Homo sapiens: one gene and its partners. The protein of the gene in region 4 interacts with the protein of the main gene of each other region in a pairwise test. Each region holds a gene or a part of one and is shown on either strand. Other genes may lie near its edges.

What was found. The genes of interacting proteins can lie anywhere in the genome.
Region 1: the proteins of RFFL (region 4) and ZDHHC17 interact in binary tests that used the Homo sapiens proteins (3 or more experiments, as listed by UniProt).
Region 2: the proteins of RFFL (region 4) and alpha-crystallin A2 chain interact in binary tests that used the Homo sapiens proteins (3 or more experiments, as listed by UniProt).
Region 3: the proteins of RFFL (region 4) and CRYAA interact in binary tests that used the Homo sapiens proteins (3 or more experiments, as listed by UniProt).

What each region holds. Positions count from the first base shown.
Region 1 is NC_000012.12:76,851,115-76,854,767, reverse strand, and holds the end of ZDHHC17 (palmitoyltransferase ZDHHC17), read right to left. Parts: 3' UTR 1,072-3,653; downstream 1-1,071. UniProt on the Homo sapiens protein: Palmitoyltransferase that catalyzes the addition of palmitate onto various protein substrates and is involved in a variety of cellular processes.
Region 2 is NC_000021.9:6,497,736-6,502,573, forward strand, and holds the start of alpha-crystallin A2 chain, read left to right. Parts: upstream 1-1,467; 5' UTR 1,468-2,038; intron 2,039-3,284; 5' UTR 3,285-3,459; intron 3,460-4,838. Other genes in the region: splicing factor U2AF 35 kDa subunit-like protein, read right to left, coding at 1,394-1,437. UniProt on the Homo sapiens protein: Contributes to the transparency and refractive index of the lens. In its oxidized form (absence of intramolecular disulfide bond), acts as a chaperone, preventing aggregation of various proteins under a wide range of stress conditions.
Region 3 is NC_000021.9:43,167,537-43,172,378, forward strand, and holds the start of CRYAA (alpha-crystallin A chain), read left to right. Parts: upstream 1-1,471; 5' UTR 1,472-1,563; coding exon 1,564-1,752; intron 1,753-2,699; exon of another isoform or gene 2,700-2,795; coding exon of another isoform or gene 2,796-2,873; intron 2,874-2,980; coding exon 2,981-3,103; intron 3,104-3,500; exon of another isoform or gene 3,501-4,046; intron 4,047-4,534; coding exon 4,535-4,744; 3' UTR 4,745-4,842. UniProt on the Homo sapiens protein: Contributes to the transparency and refractive index of the lens. In its oxidized form (absence of intramolecular disulfide bond), acts as a chaperone, preventing aggregation of various proteins under a wide range of stress conditions.
Region 4 is NC_000017.11:35,021,536-35,026,177, forward strand, and holds part of RFFL (E3 ubiquitin-protein ligase rififylin), read right to left. Parts: intron 247-4,642; coding exon 1-246.

The DNA of each region.
Region 1 (3,653 bases), on a different chromosome or scaffold from region 4:
CTTTGAATGGAAACAATCTAAAAACATTGCCATCTATTAAAAATATTTGTCAGTCCTAGTAAATGAGTGACAGTTTTAGCAAAAATTTACCTGGGTAAAACATTCATATCCAATTCAAAGGCAAGAGTTTTCTAAGAGGCATACCTGGTTTCCTTGAGTTTCTGACTTAGCTGACACAGACCAAAGAATATTCTGAATGCTCAATCTACTTTTTCTATTTTAAGTCACATAAATATATTTAATAGAAAACTCTGATAACAAGCACTTTACTTTCTGACAAGATGTTAAGATTTTCTGTCCTGGTATATACCACTTGTTTCCAATTATGTCTAAAAACTCCTAGACTCAGACATCCATATCAGGTATGATACATCAATCTAGCAAGGACTAGGAGAGATAAAAAGTAGACAATGAGGAGGAAAATACTTGGGTGGAATGAAAACTAGCGGCTTTACTTTATACAGTTGTTCAAGATATTGTTACTTGAACTCCAGACTAAAATTATGGATAGAGTATTAGTCCAATTTGAAAATATTCCTGTTTAATACCACTGGGTTCTCAAACCATTAACAACCACTGGAACAACAGGAAACAGTTCCTTAATAATTTTTGCCTTTTAAAGTCCCAAATAAAGAAGTTCTCTCTGCCACGCATATCTTCTCAAGTAACTGAGATCAACGTTTGGTAGGTTTCATTCTGCAGTATTTTTCTTTATATAGTACATTTTGCAATATTTTTCTTTAGTATCTTTAGACATATTTAAAACTTGGAGATTCATACAGTCCCTGAGGATCCTAATTAACTACATGGAATTCAAAAATTCTTAAAAAATTTATTATCTTTATTTAAAAAAAAATTACACACACACACACATGCATACACACAGGATTGGAAATTTTTTTTTTTTTTTAGAATACTAACACCATCTTTTATTTTTCCAAATTCCTACAGTCTTATGCCACTTGACTCCTAGTTAACCAGGATATAAATGTATAATCTTTTCATATCATAGGTACCACTATCATTTCATCAATTTCCTGAAGTAAATTGAGTGAAATCATAAGCACACACTTAAGAGTCAGTATTTATTCTGATTAATATTTTACAAAATTTTGACATTTAATTTATGTAAGGAGGGCTAATTTATTAAACACTTTACAGGTTTTTCTTTCCACAGAATAACACGGTAAGTAGCAAAATAATACTTGGCACAGTTATAAATAAAGAAAATATAAAATAAAAACATCCATAGCTTAAGTACAATGATGCTGTTTTACGCCCATTAATATCAAATAAATTCCTGGAAACAACAAAAATATGAATGAAAAAAAACTCCAAGGAAGTAATTCATGTTCAGTGCTGAGAATTAAGTTCCTATTTGCTAAAAGTATCCAATTAAGTTGATAAGAACTATTCCCAAAGGTTCACCATCATACACAACTTTAGAACTGGGTTTATAGTTGGTTCCACACACAGGACCTACAAAATAATTAAACAGATGGTATACTGCTGCATAGCTGGCTCCTGACCATCTGACCATTTCTGAGTTATAGATTTCACAGGTACTACAAGATGGTTACTACAAAAGCATTCACATTGCTAGTATTTTCCATGTAATTACACATCTAGAGGTTTGTCTTTTTAACTGAATGACATCTCTTTTGCACTGAAAATATTGTACCACAAACAAAGAAGATGGTAACAACATTCTTAGCCAAACTCTGAAAAAACCACCATAGTCTTTAACTGTTGATAAAAATGTATTCGATAAAAATGCAACTGAGTCTTCATGTGAAGTGGCTCAAAATACAAAAAATTAAAACAAATTCTAGCATTTTATAAATAACTTTGAATTTAAAAATTATCTAAAATTTCCCCCAATTAGTAGTCAAAACTAGCTGACATTTGTAAAGTTAACCAATTTTTACATTCTATGACAAAATGGCACAATGCTATTGCCACCCCACACCCATCTCTTCCCTTTTCAAAAATAAAGTACATATGCCAATTTTCTAATATTAAAACACATACACTAAGGGTAATCTTTTTTTGATGTGTGACTTATGGTCAAATAAGCTACTATATAAAAATGGTACTTGGAAATACTGAACATCAACTATATACATTTCACTGCTCCTCTTACTAAGGCAAGGGGCGGGTATACCACTAGATTGCTTTAATACCTGTAATCTGCATTTTACAGGGAAGACTAGTTTTACCAAGCATCAGACATGCAGTGAACTTGCAGGGTATAATGCCTATTAACAGCAATTTTGAACATCACTAGAAGCTCATTAGTTATCTCCCTTTTCTTTTTGGTTGGACAAAATGAAATGAGCAGCTTTAAAAACACTAACACAGACACAAAGAGAAAACTATTTGATAAATTATTTATATACAGATACACATTCTTTACATTGGTCTAGGATCTGTCATCAGTCTGACCACCATTCCCCCACATCTCCCACCCCATTCCCTCTCACAGATTTCCCACAGGTTGCTCGAACCACAGTTTGCTACAGCACTTAAGATGAATAAACCAAATCTCACCCTGTAAACAATATTTATGGAAGCAGTGACTAGTAGTCCACCATGAAGGTATGAAAATGCTGTGACAAAAATTGATCAGTGCATCACATTTAACAAAAAGAAAATTTTTTCTAAAACTGTTTCAGAACTTACTCAATATTGGATAAACTGAAATACTCTTGGGGATGAAATTCTACTTTCTGATAGGTCATTTTATTGAAACCAGAATATACTGTCAGCTTTTCTTTTATTCACATGTGCTATGTACTTAGATCATGCTCCATCTTTAGTTAAATGCCATTATTTTGTCTACAATTATTTTGCAGCTGAGAATTTAAAAGGAAGTATATCCATGTATCACTATTACTGAGAATTTTGCATTATTTGTTCTGCCTTTTCTTGAAAATACCACCTTAACCCTTAAAAATGGAACTGTTTTTGAACATCAAATTAAATTCTAATTTATGCTTCACTGGATAGTATCTGCTAGTATACATTCTATGTGGTGTGTCATGCAATTAGCAGGGCTTTTAAATTTGAACAAAAAAACATGACTTACTATACTCATGCAAGTGCTTCATTATCAGACCGTAAAACCTCAGAGTAAGGTTACTACAAATTATTTCACTGAACTAGAAATATATCAGCATTGCAACAGCTGATAGAAACAAAACATTGTTAGCACATTTTATTGTGAACATTATTTTCTCCTGCCTTTGAAGACAACATCACAGTAGATCCCAATCACATGATTTTCATCACAGTATTTATGTGTACATTCTGAAATGTACATAATAACTAGTCAATCAACTTAAAACAATGCTCCTGGAATTAGATGCAATACTCGTACTAGACTGCATCATAACATTTAGCCAAATAACATAAATTTAGTTTTAGTTAAAACTGAACATTTCTGATCAGTACACCATGTCTGTCAATAGAATAAGTTTACCCTTTTTTTGTGAAAAATACTGTGAGAACAAAACCCAAAAGTTGAGTATGTTGTGAATTTCCACATTAAGAACCATTAAAATTATTTTTTATCATCTTTACTCTTCCCAGAAATGGCAGTGTGTTCTGTCCATGTTTACTTTTGTTAATAAAAGTGTTGAAAAAAAGACTGT
Region 2 (4,838 bases), on a different chromosome or scaffold from region 4:
CTAAACTCAGAAGAGTCTCTTGTTCCGATAGAGCTGGTCTATTCATTCGCCAAGATCATACCGTGAGTTCCTTAAGGATAATATCCAAATTTTACCCATGTTTAAGTCTCCAGAAACTGACCTATAGTTGACCCCCACTAAATGTTTCTGGAGTGACTATAACTGGTAGATTTTGGCTTAAAATTTTGCTAGAAATATAGCCTCCTCATCCAAACAACACAGGAGATTCTACCATGTGTGAAGAGGACATTTTACAAGATAGACTCCATCCTGGAAAAGAGAAACATTTTAAATAGCGTTTGAAAAAAGTGGCATTAAAAACATCTATGACAAACTTAGGGGTTTATCATTGAAAACATAAAGTCATGTTAACTTTGTATGGCACTGAAGAATGCCAAGATAACTAAAGAGTAGATTAAGCCAGATGCTGAGTCTTTAGGTTTTCAAAGTAAGAATTATCCTTCAAACGTCTGAAAACATTCCATTTAGTCTAAACTACAGCCAACTCACTGGAAATTAGTACGTGCCAAGGTGGCAATTAAAGCTGAAATTAAATGTTTTGCTTTTAACCTAACGATTGATTAGGGAAGGCATGCAACCTTAAGGAAAAAATCAAAACATCTTTTTCCTTATATCAGAATTGTGTCTTCAAGAACAGTCACCGACTTACAAATTTTCAACTTAGATGATGGGTTTATCGGGGTATTAAAGGCATTTTCGATTCATGATGGGTTTATCGGAACGCAATCCCATGGTAAATCCAGGAGCACCTGTATGTTAAGAGCGGATCACGTCTCTTGTGGTTAGATAGTTAATCCAGTAGTCTCCACCATACTTTTTCTCGTCATATCTCCTTACTGCCGGCCCAGCGGTCGCTTAAACAGGCAAGAGGCTGGCTAAGTGGATAAAACACCAACGCTTAGGACCCTAAGTTAGATAAGCGACTGAATACTGGCGAGGCTGGTACCAGAGCTTGCTCGACAGGACATTCACAGCCGAAAGTTGGAACAAACGTGTCCACGTCCAAAAGGCCCGGATGCTCCAGGCAACTTTCAGCGCGGCTCGAGGCGGCTTCCGGGAGCCGGCGACTCGGAGGCCCGGACGTCGGGCGATCAGCCAGTTCGGACCCCAAGGCCGGAGAAAGCTCGGCCGCGGCGCCCCGAAAAGAGACCCCATTCATTCTCCCCGCTCCATTTTTCCGCCGCGCGGCCCACGAGGCGGCGGCTCCGGAGGGCGCGCAAGGGGCCGGAAGGGCCACCGCTCCTTCCCGCCGCGCGCCCCTCCCCCGCCACCGCCGCGCCGGCCCGCCTGGGCCTCCCCGGTCGCCCTCCCACCGCCTCAACCACCCTGCGCCCCGATCGCGCCCAACCCCCGGCGGGGGGCTCCCACTCACTTGTCTTTCTCGGTGCCGAAGATGGAGGCCAGATACTCCGCCATTTCCCACCCGCCGCCGCCGCTGCCGTCGACACTGCTGCCGACGCCGCCGACCCTGCCGACGCCCGCGGGAGACGTCACCCGGACGCGACGACGCTCTTCCCCGCCCCGACGTGGCAGCGCTACCCAGTCAGGCGAGGTGCTGCCTGCGCGTGGGCGGGACGCATGCGCGTAGGGAGCACGTAGTGCGCGTGGGAGGCTCCGCCTTTTCGGTCCTGGGAACCCGCGCCCCCTGCCGGTGCCCTCCCCGCCCGGCCCTAGCTCTCTCGCCTTCTCGCCCGCCCGGCGCTGGCCCTGCTGGATCCTGCGCGCCGGGGACTGGGGGCTGGCAGTGCAGACCGAACCCGGGGCCGAGGGGCTTCTCCACAGAGCCGCCTGGGGCTCGGTGGGGGGCGCTCAGCTCGACCCCAGCTAAGGGAGCACTAGGAAGTGCGGGCGTCCCCTTCCCTGCACCCTTGCGGGGCGGGAACCGTCGACCTAGAAGAAAAAAAAAGCTGAGGCAAACTTGATATAAGTAGAGAGGTTATTTGGGCCAAGTTTGAAGATTGCAACCCGGGAGCATAGCTTCAAGTTGCCCTGAACATAGGATTTGCAACAGTGACAAGTGGGTTTATAAAGCTTAAGAGGGGGGCAGTTCTTAAATAGCTCACCAAGAATTTACATGAAAATAACAAGCTATTAATTGGCTGTACGTTGTTCTTTATATCATAATTCCAGGAAAGGAAGTTCATGGGTGAAGGCAGCGGGTCCGGAGCAATAGTGCCTTTAAACAATTGCCAGGCATGGGTGGGGACCGCTGAAGCCGCATAGACCTGTCTCTCCGGGCCGGATTAACCTCGCACGCCTCACATAGCTCGGACGCTCTGTGTTGTTTTTCTCTTCTCACACCCCTCTCCGCTTTACCCTCCCTCAGCGCTTGCCAGGTGCGACCTCCCCGGGGCCCTGCACTCTTGCAGTTGCCTGGCCAAGGCCACCCACAGGTGGAGCTGGAAGGCCAGTGACCTGCCTCTGGGATACCCTTTCAGTCTCCTCATGTCACAAGGCTGGAACCATTCCGTTGGAAGGGTTCTATTCCTCTCCTGCGTTTTAACCCCATCAAGCAGCCATTTTCATCTGGTTTCCCACATTCATCAACTCACCTGCGATTTACCTAATTTCCAACGCAACTATCAACTCTGATTAGGTAGAAGTCAGAGAGACAGGGCCTATTTTACTTACCTCCTCCACAAGATGAGCCCCAGACTGTGGGGCAGGACCATGGGATCCTCTTAGCTCGGCTAGAGCTGAATGCTGAGCTCTAGTGTTTGGGCGGATTTGCGTGTTAGAATTGCATTTCTCTTGGCAACAGAGCATCTTCCTACCTGGGAAAGATGAGCAAACTGGAAACCTGTATTAGAAACAGTAGGGCCTCAGAGGTTTAAACCAAAAAGTATCTTGAGACAGGGCTCAATCAATTTAGAAGTTTATTTTGCCAAGGTTAAGGACAATGCCTGGGAGGAAAAAAAACACGGTATCACAGAAACAGTCTGTGGTCTGTGCCTTTCTCCAAAGATGACTTTGAGGGCTTCAGTATTTAAAGGGGAAAAGTGGGCTGGAGGGGAAAGCGGAACAGTGTGGTAATCCACACGTTGCAAGAGAAAAGAAGCAGGTTGGGAACAGTCGACTGTGTACAGCTCACTCCTCAGCAAATCAGCACTTTACATAAGAGAAGCGGATGTTGAACCTTCTATCTGTAGCCGTCTGCTTAGGAACGAAAGGAAAGGCAGCTGCTTACATGACTCAGCTTTCAGCTCATTCTTTTCCTTTTGACAGAGTGAACTGGGGTCCTGACTTTTGTGTTCCTTTCGCAGAGGTGAGGCCAGAGAAGTGACAAGACAGATGCCAGTCCAGCAGGTGGGCATGTCCAGAAAGTGCAGCCTCAGGACACGGTCTGGGAACAAAGACTGCTGGAGAGTTGGAAGCTGGCAAGAGGCTCTCAGCTGTGAAGTACCTGGGGTGGGGGAGAAGTGGTCGGAGAAAGCAGAGGTAAGGTCTGTGCGTGGGAACTGAACTGAAATCCACAGCTCTATTACAAGGAATTAATCTGGTTACTAGAACCAGGGTAGATGATCAGACCAGGCAGGGCCACCAGTACCATCCACCCATTTTTCCTGAGAAAAGAAAAATAGGGTAGTCTGAGCTCTGTGAGGTGTGCAGAATGATCAGGCCCAGAGAGGCAGGAGTGTGGGACTTCATTCAGCGCCTCTTCCACCATAGAAGCAACTGTCCAGGGCAATTGTTTGATGGAATTTTTGCTCCTGACAGGCTGCCTCACCCATTATCTTCTTGTTCACATGGAATTAGTGATGCTAAGAACGATGCATAGCCAATCAGCACCTTCTGTTATTTTAATGCAAATTCTTGCTAACAACTTAGGGACTGCCTCTTCCTTTTCCTTAAAACCCCACTGTGACTGCTGCTAATGGGAACATATGTTCAGGGCAACCTAGGGGCATGTGCCCAGGGAGCCATCCTCAAGCTTTGGGCTCAAATAAACTCTATACTTAATCATATTTCCTGAATTTCATTATTTGAGGTTGACATTTTGGCAACCCAGATAGGACCTGAAGCAGGCCTTCAGGGATTGCCACTAAGTAGTGGCATCAATAGTTGGAGCCTTGGTACCAGCACAAACGACTGTTGTTTACTCGACCTCACTGGGGCTGGCAGGGGTCTCTGGTAAGGCCAGTCTTGGGATCTGAATCCTCCCAGCTTAGTTGAAGATTGAGACTTACACACTAATAATTTGATAGGGTTAGAACTGAAGCTCCACTGAAAGGTAGGAGTTTCCATTTTTATTCTCTAGAGATTCTGTTGACTGCAGATTTGTGATTTTCACTTCTGTCTGAGGTTTTGCTTGTCTTTTTACAGTTTGCAGCCTTTTCTCTCATTCGAAATTTGGTCAAGGAGAAAGTGTCATCTTTAAAACTGGCCATATTCTGAAACTTGGTTCAACTGACAAATCTAAACATTCTTCTTCTTCTTCTTTTTTTTTTTTTTTTTTTTTTTTTGAGACAGAGTCTCGCTCTGTCGCCCAGGCTGGAGTGCAGTGGCATGATCTCGGCTCACTGCAACCTCTGCCTCCTCAGTTCAGGCAGTTCTCTGCCTCAGCCTTCTAAGTAGCTGGGATTAGAGGCGCCTGCCACCATGCCCTGCTAATTTTTTGTATTTTTAGTAGAGTTGGGGTTTCACCATCTTGGCCAAGCTGATCTTGAACTCCTGACCTCGTGATCCCCCTGCCTCGGCCTTCCAAAGTGCTGGGATTACAGGCGTGAGTCACCGCGCTTGGCCATTTTCTTCTTTAGTGACCAAAATTCCTCCCCTTAGGCATTTTTGGTCATTCAGAAGGAAAATCTAAATTATGG
Region 3 (4,842 bases), on a different chromosome or scaffold from region 4:
GGCAACTTCCCACAGCCTGGACCGTACACTAGAAAAGCTAGCCTGGGAGAGGGGGCATGGCCTCTTCCCAGGCTGGCAGGGGGGATGTGGGGGAGGACCATGCTCCCCAGGGCCAGTTTACCAAAATATCAAAATACCAAAATATCAAAAGACTTAAAACTAGGAGTGAGCCAGGTGCAGTGGCTCACGCCTGTAATCCTACACTTTGAGAGGCCAAGGCAGGTGGGTCACCTGAGGTCAAGAGTTTGAGACCAGCCTGGCCAACACGGTGAAACCCTGTCTCTACTAAAAATACAAAAATAATAATAATAATAATAATAATAATAATTAGCCAGGTGTGGTGGCAGGCACCTGCAGTCTCAGCTACTCAGGAGGCTGAGGTGGGAGAATTGTTTGAACCTGGGAGGCAGAGGTTGCAGTGAGCTGAGATCGCGCCACTATATGATCTGGGCGCCACTCTGGGTGACACAGCAAGACTCCATCTCAAAAACAAACAAACAAAACCGGGAGTGCCTGGACACTTAGTGAGAACTGGACAGGGGCCATGGGTCGAGGAGCAAAATAATCACCAGGACTTGTGGATAACAGGATCATGTGGGTGGTGGGTCCGCATGGGTGACAGGGACGTGGGGACATGTCGCCACCCTGACAGGAGCAGCCCAACTCAACAGCCACGGCAGGTCATGCCACGGAGGCTCGAGGCGTTACGTGGGGATGTTACATCAAGGCATTACATCATTACGAGATGTAACGCTCGAGGCGTTACATCGAGGGGACGATGGCCATGGGGCTGGGCGTCCAGGGTGGGCCGCAGAGGGAAGCTCACCACGTGGTGCTCTCATCTGCCCACAGCCCAGCCCGTCTTCCTGTTGGAGGCATGTGACCCCTGGAGGACAAGCATGAAACGCCATAGGGCTCCCCCAGGTGCTGGAATTATGGCACCTTGCAGCTTCTTCTCCACGAGTTTTAACAAGCATGCGTACTTTTGTAAGTGGTGAGTGTAACGGAGGTTCACAGATGCACTCCGCTTTGGAAACCAGTGCACTCTTGCCCAGGCCCGGTGAGACTCTGAGGACGATGTGTCTAACCTCTGTGTCTAACGGGGGTGTGTGCTCTCCCTCCTCTGGCGACCATGAGGACCACCCCGGCAGGACAAGGTGTGCAGAGAACTAGCATGGTCCCTGGCACGTAGCCCCTGCCCAGTGACTGGCAGATGAGAAGCTCCATTGTCGCCCCAGGCGAGTATGGGGCACAGGCGCCTCCTTGGGTTGTCTGCCCTCCCGGGAGCCCCAGGGTGCCCAGGCGGGCCTCAGCTGAGTCCAGGCCTCGGGGACAGTCCGTGCAGCCCCTCCTGGGGCTGGGGGCGGGCACTTGTCCCAGCCACGTTTCTGCTGACTGAGCAGCCTTCTTCATGAGCTCACGCCTTTCCAGAGAAATCCCTTAATGCCTCCATTCTGCTGGTGGCATATATAGGGAGGGCTCGGCCTTGGCTCCACACTGCGCTGCCCAGAGGCCCCGCTGACTCCTGCCAGCCTCCAGGTCCCCGTGGTACCAAAGCTGAACATGGACGTGACCATCCAGCACCCCTGGTTCAAGCGCACCCTGGGGCCCTTCTACCCCAGCCGGCTGTTCGACCAGTTTTTCGGCGAGGGCCTTTTTGAGTATGACCTGCTGCCCTTCCTGTCGTCCACCATCAGCCCCTACTACCGCCAGTCCCTCTTCCGCACCGTGCTGGACTCCGGCATCTCTGAGGTAAGACGTGGCCCGTGGTGCTGGCCTCTCCTCGCTGCTCAGAGGGTGGTGGCCTCGGTGGGTGGAGAGCGATGGACTCTGGTCTTGCTCCGTCAGGCAGGTGGCCTCGTCCCACTTCATCCCCTTGCAGAGGCTGGGCGAGAGCCTGTGTCCCCACTGCAGCCACGTGGCAGAGCTTCCCCTGGCACTGGGGAGAGGGTGGACAAGGGAGCAGCCTGAATCCACCTTTGCTTTCCTCCATCAGCTCATGACCCATGTGTGCTTTGTAAGGCACCAGCCACATACTGGAAACCCCAAGAGCAGCCCATCCAGGCATGCGTGGTGGCGAATGCCAGCTCCCGGGTTCCTCTGGTCTCCTGAGTCCCGGAGACCTGGGAGCAGGTGGGGGTCATAGTCCTGAAAGCCAGAGAGCAGGGCGTTCCTAGCACCTCCTCCAATGAGCTCGGCCTGCCCACGGCTAGCAAAGCTCTTGGCAAGTTTACTTAGGTGCCCTGCCAAGGCTAAAAGGACAGGCAATGGACGCCCCCCCCCCCACCCAACCACAGGCCTCCTCTCTGAGCCACGGGTGAGCGGTGCAGGTTCTGCTGTTCTGGAGGGCCTGAGTCCCACCCAGCACCTCATAAACAGGGTCCTCCCCAGGGCTGCTGCAGTAGGCATCAACGCCAGGGTGCAAAATGCCTCAGGGAGCCAAGGCTGAGCCAGGGGAGTGAGAAGGAGCATGTGGAAGTGCGTTTTGGAGAGGCAGCTGCGCAGGCTGTCAGCAGGCTCCGGCCGCTTCTATAGACAGCATGACACCAAGGGCAGTGACCTCATTCCACAGGCTGAGTCCAGCCAGCCAGCCAAGCATCACCAGCCAGACGATTGACCCTAACGGACCAACCAACCCGTAACGACCCCTCCTACCATAACCAGTAGCCAGCCAGCCCATAACCAGCCAACTTATCTATAACCAGCCACCTGACCATAGCCAAACAACCAGCCGGCCCACCAGTAGCATTCAGCCCCTCAGCTGGCCCTGAGGGTTTGGAGACAGGTCGAGGGTCATGCCTGTCTGTCCAGGAGACAGTCACAGGCCCCCGAAAGCTCTGCCCCACTTGGTGTGTGGGAGAAGAGGCCGGCAGGTGACCGAAGCATCTCTGTTCTGATAACCGGGACCCGCCCTGTCTCTGCCAACCCCAGCAGGGACGGCACCCTCTGGGCAGCTCCACATGGCACGTTTGGATTTCAGGTTCGATCCGACCGGGACAAGTTCGTCATCTTCCTCGATGTGAAGCACTTCTCCCCGGAGGACCTCACCGTGAAGGTGCAGGACGACTTTGTGGAGATCCACGGAAAGCACAACGAGCGCCAGGTGAGCCCAGGCACTGAGAGGTGGGAGAGGGGGGCGAGTTGGGCGCGAGGACAAGGGGGTCACGGCGGGCACGACCGGGCCTGCACACCTGCACCATGCCTTCAACCCTGGGAGAGGGACGCTCTCCAGGGGACCCCGAATCAGGCCTGGCTTTTCCCCAAGGGAGGGGCCGTGCCCACCTGAGCACAGCCAGCCCCTCCCGGTGACAGAGGTCACCATTCCCGAGCTAATGTGGCTCAGGGATCCAGGTTAGGGTCCCTTCCCGGGCTGCACCCAGCCGTCGCCAGCTCCATCCCTGTCACCTGGATGCCAGGGTGGTCTTAGAAAGAACCCCAGGAAGTGGGAGTGCCCCGGGTGGCCGCCTCCTAGCCAGTGTACATCTTCACATGAACCCTACCTGAGGAAGCCAGTCCCCGACGGCATAGCTGCATCCGCTTGGAATGCTTTACAGGCATTGACACCTTCGCCTCACAGCAGCACTTTGGAACCAGTGTCCTCATTATTCCAGGGCACGGCTGGGGAACAAGGGGGTCCTCAGCCTGCTGGGTCCCACAGCTAGTACCGGGCAGGTGGACGGGAGCTTCTCCCCACAGTCACCCTGATGCCCCGCTCTTGCTCGGCTGGAGGCCTCGGATCTCCGTGGTGTTGAGGGAGCCGGGGCACTGGAGCCCTGGTGACCTGCATCTCCTGGCGGAGCCGGGAAGAGCTCATGGACTGTCACAGATGGACAGTGCCCCGCGGGGGCTGGAGAGCAGAGTGGGGCTGGAAGGTGGAACTCTTAGCCAAAGTCTTGGTTTCTTTTGGCCAGGGTCCTCTTTCAATGGCTGGAGAAGGTGGTGCTGGGGGGTGAACGCTGACCTCCTCATGTGCTGCCCCTCCCTCGCCTGGGCCCGGTAAAGCCCCCACGTAGCCCCAGCCAGCCTGGAACATGCTTCCTGAGCTCCCAGCTCTTGGTCTTTGCACCCAGTGGAGGAGGAGGTCAGCCCAGGGAGCTGAGTCTGCGGTTTAGGGCGTCCAGGGGACGTGGAAGCATGTGGGTCGTCTGGCCACATTAGGTAGGGCTGCAGAGACCTGGGCTAGAGCAGTCCTGCGGGGTCTGGAAGGGGAAGACTGGCTGAGGTGCGGGGCCTGGTCTGGAATGATCCTGCGATTTTGGAGTGAAGCCATGGAGCGGGAAGAGACAACCCCCCGCGGGGAATAGCCCGGCAAGTGGCCACGAGGCCAGGCTGAGGTCCAGAGAAGCAGGGGCATGAATCCATAAATCCCAGGGGGCCTGGCCATGGGATGTGCTGGCTGCACCCGGCCCCTGTGAGAGCCCCCGCAGGCTGGCCCCCTTCTGCAGTCAGTGGGGCTGGGGCAGCTTCTCTGGCATGGGGCGAGGCAGCCGCCTGCACAGTGGCCCCCCTGACTGTGCGCCCCCACCCTCTCCAGGACGACCACGGCTACATTTCCCGTGAGTTCCACCGCCGCTACCGCCTGCCGTCCAACGTGGACCAGTCGGCCCTCTCTTGCTCCCTGTCTGCCGATGGCATGCTGACCTTCTGTGGCCCCAAGATCCAGACTGGCCTGGATGCCACCCACGCCGAGCGAGCCATCCCCGTGTCGCGGGAGGAGAAGCCCACCTCGGCTCCCTCGTCCTAAGCAGGCATTGCCTCGGCTGGCTCCCCTGCAGCCCTGGCCCATCATGGGGGGAGCACCCTGAGGGCGGGGTGTCTGTCTTCCTTTGCTTCCCTTTTTTC
Region 4 (4,642 bases):
CTGGGAGATTACAGGCTGCTGGCCAAGGACCAAGAGCACCAGCTCTTCTTTCTCCCGGCACATTTCGGTAGAGATGTCATGGAGGCTGAGATAGTCCCTCAAGTCCTTCACCTTCATCTTCATGAGCTCCTCTCGCTGAAAGGCTGTAGCTCGAAACCGTTGGCAGAGAAGGCAGAGGCGGGGCCCATTCCCTACTTGGCTCGAACAGGTCATGCAAAAATTTTTCTTACAGTCCAAGCAGGTCTGCTGCTTAGAGCAAAAGACACAGGAAACCATGTCAGATTGAGAGAACAAGACAGAGAGTGCGATGGGAGCTTCAGAGCTGCCAAGCCCAGCAGGATCTCCTCCAGTCACTCTTACTTTTACTAAGCTCTCTCATATATCTAAGGGTGCAAGCCACTTTCAGATTTTAGATTAAAAGCCACTCGGGTGGAAGACCTCCACTATGTATTGTGTATATCCATGTACAGGACACTTCACATTTATTATTTAATTTGAGGCTTACTTTATTTACTCCTGAAGCACCTGAGGTATTAATTAAGACTACCAGCATAAGAATCAAAAAGCTCTGCATTTTTATTAAGCCTCCCTCCCTTATTTCTTGCAGTATCACCTTGGGTGTGTAATTTAGCCTCTCTGGTGCTCAGTTTCCACATCTGTAAAATGGGGGTGATAACAGTATCTACCTCATGGGGTTGTTGTGAAGATTAAGAGAGAACCCATTTAGCATATCTAACACAAAATGAGTCCTCAACAAGTGTAAGCTGTTTTATTATAGCTAGGAAATATTACCTAACGGTGACAGCCAGGATTCAAATCCTAAACTGTAATTATTTCTGCATGAAGGTTATGGTGGTGGTGGTTGTTACAATTAATATTAATTTATTGAGGTGCTTCTATATGCTAGCTTGTCATTTAATTCTCAAAGCGACATTGCAAAGTAGGTATTAGTGTTCTTCCCTGATTCACAGACAAAGCAACCGAGGCTTAGGGAGATCAACTGTTGTATTCAAGGTCAGGCAATAAACAGGAGAGCGGGTATTCACACTCAAGGTCTGTTGGAGGCTAATGCCCATGATCACATTCTTTCCACCAGGCCATACTGCATAGCTCAGTTCCATTCAAGTACAGAGCAGTTCTGAGTCAAGGGCCTGGCTTCCATCTCCAAATTCCCCACCCACTGCTCCATCGACACAGGCTCCCCACTCCAGGAAGGCCCACTCAGAGTGCTGGGAACCCAGTGGTGCTTACAAGCATATCCAAGACAAATATTTAGACAGCAACGGGAGGCTGTCTGGACATCAGGGTACTCTCGTTCCTGAAAGCACAGAGTGTCTCAGTTAGGCAACAAGAGCGCCTGATGGGCAAGCTGGTACTGCCTGGCAGCAGCTAGTCTGGCAGTCGCTGACAACACAGGAAGGCTTACTCAGCCCACAGGAAGCAATCCTCGGCCTCTCACCCCACAGGCTGAGTGAGCACAGTGACATCCGGCTGAGCTCTGTTCTGGCCAAGAGCATGTCACATCCCCAACAAGAGAGGTAATTCCTGAGCACACTGGGATTGGCCTGGAGGGCACCCTCATTAATCCTTTAAAGAAGTTAAAAACTTTTCATCCTGTGTTGACTTAAGTAGTAACTTAAATATTTCTGGTCCATCTTTTCGAAATATAGAAAGATATTCAAGCTAAAAAAGAAAGCTCAAGAGACAAGATTCTCATAGTCAAGATCACAGACACTCTGGGCTGAAGTAAATGTCTGCATAGTTAAGATAGTTATATAAGTTTTGTCTAAGTATCATTCACATAGTAAAGGGAAAAGGAAATAATATTTACCACCCAGTTTTGGCTATTAAGACTTAGAAGGCATTGCAAAGGGACATATATCAAGCTCCCTAATTCTCCATACAGTTATAACCAAACAATACTGTTCAGAGATGGACTTAAAAGGATGCATGGCTGCACTAGCATTGTAACGGTTCTGGGACCAGTAGCCATGCAGGCAGAAAATGGATGTTTTCAGGTATTTGGGGTTCATTCACATCTAAAGCTTTTCTATTGGGAAATGAAGTCTGTTTAGGATGACTGAGACTGAAACAAAGAGGCTTCAATGCCATAAACCTGTGGGCCTGACATGGAATATTACTTAAGTCGATGCAGTCTGACAAGACCTAGCTTGACACAATTATAAAGCCTGCGTTGCTCAATCAGCCAGATCCAAACAACTCTCTATTCTTTCTTCAAATGTGTGTGGCTTGCTGGATGCAAGATCAGAATGCAGACAACAACCTAGCTTCTATGCACCCGCTGGCTCACAGGGAACTCTGAAATAAGCTGGCATCTGAAACACACCCTACAGGAACAGGATAGGGCTTGAGGCTAAAACCCCAGTTTGCAGTGGCAGAAGAAAACAAGAAGAAAGGAAAAAAGGGCTGTCAACAAATGCAGGCAGAATGAGCAAAGGACACACTTATGTATAAATTCTGCCGAATGGTTCAAAACAACTCAGTAACCAGGTAGCATGAAAGATGAATTAGTGGAGGCAACCAACATGCCTGCAGAAATGCCCAGGGTGTACTGAGATATCCAGCATCACAGAACTGGCCGTGGCGCCTCAGGCCGACACCACCCTTCAAGGATGCCGTGTGCAGGGTTCTGCTGGCTCCCGTTTGCCAACTGCCCTTCCCTTGCTCCTACTCCCTCCCACCCTATTCCCTGGAATATGGGAAGTATTACATGAGAGAATGTATATAAAACCTTAGCACAAAGTGGATGCTCCAGAAAAGGTAACACGGTTACCTTTTTCTTTCCCCTTACCAGCACCTAAGACCCAGTCCTCTCTTAACACTCTGAGATCTGAATATCACTTCCATGGCTCCAAGCATAACCTCATCCTCCAACTGGTCCAACTAAAGAGGCTGGGTGCCAGACTCCCTCCAAAACCGTCAGGGTCGCTGCTAAACCACAGGGAGGTATTACCAATAGAGATGGGGTATTTGGCTTGTGGCAAAAGTACAGCCTGCCATTTCTCTTTAGGACTGAAAACTCAGGGAATGCAAGGGCCACATCTTACTTATATTCTGTCTATAAAGTCCTGAATGTTATCTGTGCTTTGCACCCAATAAGCATTCAGAAAGTACTGACCATAATGAAGAATAAGGAAAAGAAAAAGATAGTAGGATCCATGGAATCATTTCAATTCAAGCACTTCTAGAAAAAGACATTTTGAAAGCCCCTGGGTGTTAAATGCCAAACCCTTAAGATAAGAATGCTGATCCACTTAAGCATGAAATTACAAATGAAAAATTCTCATAGATGAAAACACCCTTAATATTCACAAAATTCACTGTAAATTGCACAAAATTAACTCATACTTTTGTAGCAAGAAAATATTGTAGCAAGAAAATATTGTACCAATAACCATCTTTTACCATCCAAACTGGAATTTTTCTTCCCCTCCAGAAGCTCTTGTTACACACACTTTTCTTTTGTCACATCGTATGGTGTGCACTGTCCTCACCTCCCTGTCCAACTGCAAGCTCCCCGTTAAGCAGCAATGGCCTTCTTCATCTCTGCCTCCCTAGCCCAGGCAATTCCTGATACACAGTAGATATTCAGTAATTCATTTTCCAATAAGTAAGAAAAAAAGCACCTTATTTTAATCATTGCCATGCTTTTCTAGGCACCCAGGCCTGTAACTGTCATCTTCTACTCGACATGCTGAATGTCTTCTGGGAGGGGCTTTGGAATCAAGGACCTGGGTTTGAATCCCGGCTCTGTCATTTAATAACTATGTGATCTTGAGCACTACTGAAGTCAAGGGAAAAGAATGAGTATTTTAATATCTCTCATGCTATTTGTCAGGAATTTAACACATTCAATGTTCTTCTTAAATTTTAAACCCTAAGCCCTAGTTTCTCATATGTAAAATGGGATTTGGGAGATTCTAAAACCTATATCATAGCTATTGTGAGGATTAAATGAAATAAAAAAATTTAAATTCCTTAAACAGTCCTTTGCACATAGCAGATGGTTTAAAAGTATGATTTCCTCTCAAATTTCCCATGATCACCATTTTAACATCATATCCTATCACTTATTCTGAGCTGCAAACCTCTCATTCTGCAGAAAAATGCAGAATGCAGGAGTTCTTTATCCAGGTGAGGGTTTACCTTCTGCCTAGTCATGCTTGATCACAGATAACTCACTGCCTCTGGAAGAGGGAGGGTGCACACCTAGACACCATTATCTAGCCAGTAATTTTTTTTCCAGCTCATTCATTTGGGAAGCATGGCTCCCAAGCATTTCAAATGAAATCTGCTACAGTAAATAAGCTCCAGTCTTTGTTATGGTCTTCATGTACCTGAGGCATCCTTAACGTTGCTTTTGATAAAAAGAACAAGTTAATCTGCAATCAGGCCTTTGTGATGGTGGCTAATGATGGAAATAACATCAAGTGCCTACGACATTCTAAGCATTGTGCTAGGCACCTTTCATGGCTTTCTTGTCTCACTTTATTCCCACAACCCTGAAAGATGAGGACTACAATCATCCCCATTTTATAACAGGGAAACTGAATCTCAAGAGAGGTTAGATCATATAGCTAGTAGGTAGCAACGCTGATAACTGAATTTAGGTCTACTGACT